2 separate regions of the Homo sapiens genome follow, and region 2 is linked to region 1. The links come from fine-mapping of genetic effects on gene expression. Tissue or cell type: whole blood. Region 1 holds a variant in brackets; the other region holds the start of a gene. All regions are shown on one strand. Distances are between the middles of the regions.

The links. PIP is the estimated chance that this variant, and not a neighbour inherited with it, causes the effect.
Region 2: ARHGAP10 starts here. The variant in region 1 is fine-mapped to the expression of ARHGAP10 in whole blood (INTERVAL, PIP 0.96).

Annotation. Positions count from the first base shown.
Region 1 is chr4:148,060,851-148,063,532 of GRCh38, forward strand. ARHGAP10 (Rho GTPase activating protein 10) reads left to right here. Exons shown (of 23, transcript NM_024605.4): 21 at 2,298-2,450. Among named protein-coding and RNA genes, the nearest start is that of MIR4799, 280 kb to the left of the region's middle. The variant A/C (reference allele first, on the strand shown) is at 1,138.
Region 2 is chr4:147,730,841-147,733,522 of GRCh38, forward strand. It overlaps ARHGAP10 (Rho GTPase activating protein 10), which reads left to right and starts at 1,248. Exons shown (of 23, transcript NM_024605.4): 1 at 1,248-1,615. The coding sequence starts at 1,462. RefSeq lists enhancers at 859-1,751, 1,752-2,644, 1,965-2,034 and silencers at 945-1,464, 1,775-1,854.

The sequences.
Region 1 (2,682 bases):
TAAATAGCAACAGAAAGATCACAAAAAAACAAAAAAGGTGAATGTGGAGAACTTGACCCTGGACAAGGACTGCTGATTCTGTGTTCCTGTTTTGGGATGAGATGGAGAAAGCCAGGGTGCGGGACAGGCAGGCTTTTCTGTTGCGTATCTGTCATTACAGTGGTTCTTTCACTTTCTAAAAACTGAGGGGTATTTTCCCTAAACAAACACACCCACCCACCCGCGGGTGTTTTCATGGAGGTTTCCTTTTTTTTTTTTAAAGAAAGATGTGAGGATCAAGCAGACAATACCTATAAAATTTATGCTCTTTATTTTTCAAGGGCCACATAAGTGTAGTCACATAGTTACTTTATCTTCTTCCTGTAACTGTCCTCCCTCTAGGCAGAGGGATGGCAGTCATTGACGATTTATGACTCTGAAGAGCTGATGGGGGGTGTGGCAAAACATCTCATCTTCCTCCATTCACACCCTCCAAGCACCTTGAATAATTGCTGGGAGATAACTTGGCAATTGTTTGGCTAACTGTGGCCTTAATTTCCTGCCAGGGCTTCACTCACGCCTACCTGTCCTTTCCGTTCCTGATTAGTAAGACAACATTCAGCGTTCCTTTTCTGCTAAAAAAAAATGGAGTGACTTTTGTGACTGTTGATACAGATCACTTTAAGATTTATAACAAATCTTGCCTTGGGATAAAATAGATTTTATGACTCCCAGATGAATGGCTGGATAAGGGAATTGTAAATAAGCTCTTAGAAGAATAATGTTTTTTTTTTTTAAATGACCCCCTTTTTTTCCTGACCAAAGCATAGGAAAGCTTCTGTGTATTAAATACCTACCAAGTCAATTATGCACCAGATTTGTAAAATCCACTTTTGGTTTTAGAGCTTTCTAATTTGGTTGCTCCGATGTTGGCTGATGGCTCCATGTCCCCGCCAATCTGCCTGGCTTCGTGAGATCTGGAAAAAGAGTTAAAGATCTTCCTGTGGAGGCAAGAGAAATACTTGAAGGCATCAGAGAACAACCAGTATCAATGTGCCCTTTCATTTATTGGTGTCGCAGGCCTTCAGGGAAGGTGTATGGGTTAGAGAGGCCACAGGGGGAGTATTGGGGGAGGTGGAACTGGAGCTGAGCCAAGGA[A/C]GGGCAAGATTAGAGCAGGGCGGGGAGCTTGAGAGGAAAGGCAAAGCTTGAGGCGGAGGTGGGAACGCCAGGAAGCAGAGCTGTGGCAGACAGGGTAGGCTGCTGGGGCGGGACGGCCCCTGGTAGGTGAGCAGGTGCAGGAGCATTGTGTATAGGGAGACAAGTGGGTAAACTTGGCCCTAGGTTGCTGAGTGTCACCGTGTTGGAGGATTGCACCTAGGGGCTGGCCAGGAGACCATGCTGGTACTGAAGAACACGGTGCTAGTTCTCCGGCAGGGGAAACAATCTGAGAGCATGCTGAGGAGTGCAGAAGCCTCGGGAAACTGCTCGTGGAAACTGGTGTACTGGTTTAGCAGAAGACGGGGTATCTTAGGTGAAGAGCACCTGGGTGCTGCAGACAGGGAACACGTGTGTGTTCAAAATGTCACTGAATGAAACGAGACACTTCTCAAGGGAATGTCATAAACCATAGTCGCCTCCAGTTCTGAGGTCACTGAAGAGTAATTCAGATTAACACGCATCAATTATTTGAACTCTCCCTCTGTGCTTAGAGGCCATTCCAGGTGTCTGTTCACTGACCTGTTTACATTAACTTTAAAAAAAAAGGGAAATATTAAGAAATGCTCTGGTCACCAGAAGTTTTTGCTGTTCATTGGTTTCGAAGTCTTTGGCCCTCTCTAGAGGAAGCCTGAATCCAGTGGCATTTTCTTCTGAATTGCCACACGTGTAGGAGCAGGTGAAAGATCTTTAAATGTTTAGCTGATCTTTTGCAGCTGCCGGTCATGTGCTTGATGCTAGATTCCTGTGGTTTTCCTTATAATTAGAAAAAGTGAATACCTTGAATGTCCCACTACTCCTTTGATCAATTAGATTCTGGTTTTCTAATTAGTGAACTCATAGGGTGCTAGCAGGTTGGACAGATTGGAGAACCTGGAGAAGGACAGTAAGACAGCTTGAGTTTGGGGCTGTGGCTGGTTTCTGGGTTGTTGGTATCCGTAGTTTGGGCTGCAGCCCCGGCAGGATGCAGAGAGGACTCTGTCCCTACTGGTCAGGCATGATAGGGGAATTAGTGACCTAGTCATCTGGGATTGGGATGTTGTGCATTTCGTGTTCTGTGGCCTTTCTGCTATTAATCCTGTCCTTCAAACTCCTACCCTTAGCCCAGGCCAGACCCGATCGTCTATGGTCCAGTGGCTTAACCCACAGTCTCCAACCACAACAAGCTCCAACTCAGCTGTGACACCTCTTTCACCCGGGTCGTCCCCTTTCCCCTTTTCTCCTCCTGCTACTGTAGCGGACAAGCCACCTGAAAGGTACGTGGTTTGGAGTGGAATGTGGAATATGGTGGCAGCACACACAGGGGGCTTGATGAACCTGAGCAGGTTCTTGTGTTCTCTGCTGGCAAAAGCTTGCCCAGATACCCCCAGCATCCTGGACTTCATGGACAGCACTTACCACCTTGTATCAGGGCCGTGCCTCACCCAGTTCAGTAGCAAGGACGTTCTTTGGAGAATTTGCCTTACATGAGACTTGCTTGAGCCTACT
Region 2 (2,682 bases), 330 kb before region 1:
AAACGTTACTCTAATGAACTATTAGTGTTTTTTTTTAAGAAATACTTTTTTTTTTTTTTGAGACATTGTCTCGCTCTGTCGCCCAGGCTGGAGTGCAGTGGCACCATCACGACTCACTGCAACCTCCGCCTCCTGGGTTCAAGCGATTCTCCTGCCTCAGCTGGGACTACAGGCACGTGCCACCGCACCCGGGTACTTTTTGTATTTTAAGTAGAGACGGGGTTTCACCATGTTAGCCAGCTGGTCTCCAACTCCTGACCTCAGGTGATCTACCCGCCTCCGTCTCCCAAAGTGTTGGGATTACAGGCGTGAGCCACCACGTCCGGCCTAAGGTATACATTTTAATACTTTAAAATGCCTAACTTTTTTTGGGACACACTGGAGTTGTTTCATAACACACAAAATAGGCTTTTTGAGGGCACTGACATAAATTCTCATTGATCGTCACCCCCACGCGGTGAAAACCACACGTTACCTGGCATGTTTTCCGGTAGTTATTTTTAGAATAATAAAGATCGTCTTCACCTACCCCAGCAAATTTAATGTGCTGAACACAACAGAAACAACTTTTCTGTGGTTTAGCCAGCCCTCTCTCTTCAACTAAGTTATTTAGTGCGGATACGCAGAGAAGTGTAATAGGAGCTGCTGGGCCACCAAGAAAACGCTCTTGCCATTGTAAGGCTTCGATCTCAAGCGGAGATTTACCACGCATCTCACTTTAAACTGGGAAAGGAACCGGGATAAGGAAAAGAGCCCCCTGTGCGAGTTCGTTCCCAGCTCGGGGTTGGGGGCGTCCCAGGATAAATGAGATAAATGAGTTAATCATCTCCTGCAAGGCAGCCACTTCAGAGTTATGTCGCCCGCCTGCGGGGACTAACGACTGCAATTAAGACGCTCCTTCTCGGTCCCGGTCGGGTTCCGTGCAGCGGGGAGCCGACTGTGAGTCACCCCGGCCCCGGGAGCCCAAGCAAAGGGGAGGGGAGAGCGCCCAGGGTGGAGGGGAGCCGCGGGGCGAAATTCTAGCCCCAGGACGCCTCGGAAGGAAGAGGAGGGGCAGCTGCGCGTGGGGAAGAGAAGGAAGAGGCGTCCAGGGAAGGGAAGGGAGGAAGAAGGAAGGCGGAGGAAAGAGAAGGGGACGAGCGGGAGCGCGGGCCCGGCCGGGTGGCGCCTCGGGGAGTGTCTGCCGCGCGGGGGCCGGGCGGGGCGGGGCCGCGGGCGCTCAGAGCTCGGCGGGGGCTGCCGGGATTGGGGCGCCGCAGCTAGCGCTGGTCTCGGTGGCAGCTCCTCCGCGCCGCAGGACTCGGCTCTACGGGACATGTCCGTGCCGCGCTCGCCGCGCGCCCGGGCCTGCTAGCTCCTCTGTGCTCCCTGAACGCGCGGCGCCGCACCTGGCAGCGGCCTCGGAGCTCGGCTCGGGCAGGAGCGCGCGGCCGTGCGCACCGCGCAGCGACCGCTGCCGTCATGGGGCTGCAGCCCCTGGAGTTCAGCGACTGCTACCTCGACAGCCCGTGGTTCCGGGAGAGGATCCGCGCTCACGAAGCGGAACTCGAGAGGACCAACAAGTTCATCAAAGAGCTCATTAAGGACGGGAAGAACCTCATCGCTGCGACGAAAAGTAAGCGGGGACGCGGGCGCGGACGGGCTGCGGCGTGGCGAGGCGGCTGGGGGAGCCTCTCTCGGCAGGAGACGGAGGGTCTTGTGTCCGGGGCCAGCAGCCAGAGGAACGGGGAATTCATTCCGGACCAGCCCAGCTCTCTCGGAACCCCGGGGGGTCCCTGGAATCATTCCTCCTCGAGGCAGCGCGGCGAGTCCCCATTCCCGCCCCTGCGGCTCTGCGGCGGCGGGAACCAGCTGCCAGCGGGCCCCGCCTGGGCCCCGCCTGGCCCCGGCCGAACACCCCTCGCTGAATGCGCGCTCCGCTGGACCGACCCTAGGCACTCCTGGCCCGGAGTCAGGTTTCATTGCTGCCTAAAGCTACTCACAATCTCTTACAAAACCGAGGCATCTGTTTGCCTAGTTTTGTTTTGTGACTTCTCAAAAGAAATTTCTTGGGGATTCTTTGAAACCCTGCGGGAGTGTTGAGTTTTCCAGAGTCCCCTTAAGCTTCACCTTTTCCCTCTCATTGTCTGATCTTCCCCGACAGTCCTGTTCCAGGTCCTTCACGTGCCAAACCAGAAAGTCCACCTGGCTTTATGCTGCTTCCGCACATTCCTCCCCTGCCGTGCTGAGGAGGGTTCAAAGATTGGGGTTTGGAAGGGTGAGCGGACAGCCTGCCCTCTAGCCTAGGCGGGCACTGCTTGCAAATAGGGAATTCCACCCCGGTTAGGCTTGGTGCCTTCCTCCCCTGAACTTCTGTCTCTTAAACTCGGAAGAAGACACGAGATACAGGAGAGATAACTGTATTTTAGTGTAGTTGAGGAGAGTCTTTCTAGGAGAGAAGGGGCCAAAATTCATGCAGAAATACTGAGTTAGTGATGCTACTGGAAAATGGGGCGGAATTAGCCCCAGTGAGGAGCTGGGCAGCCTGACCATCCCTTGGATCCATAACCCCTTCGGAGGATGGCGGTGAATGTCCCCTTTCCCCCTTTAAAAGACCTGTCCATACAGCAGACAGGGACTTGGGCAGTATCCAGCCTTGAGGGGCTGGGTTCTTAGGGCCTTCATCACTCACCTAGATTCTCA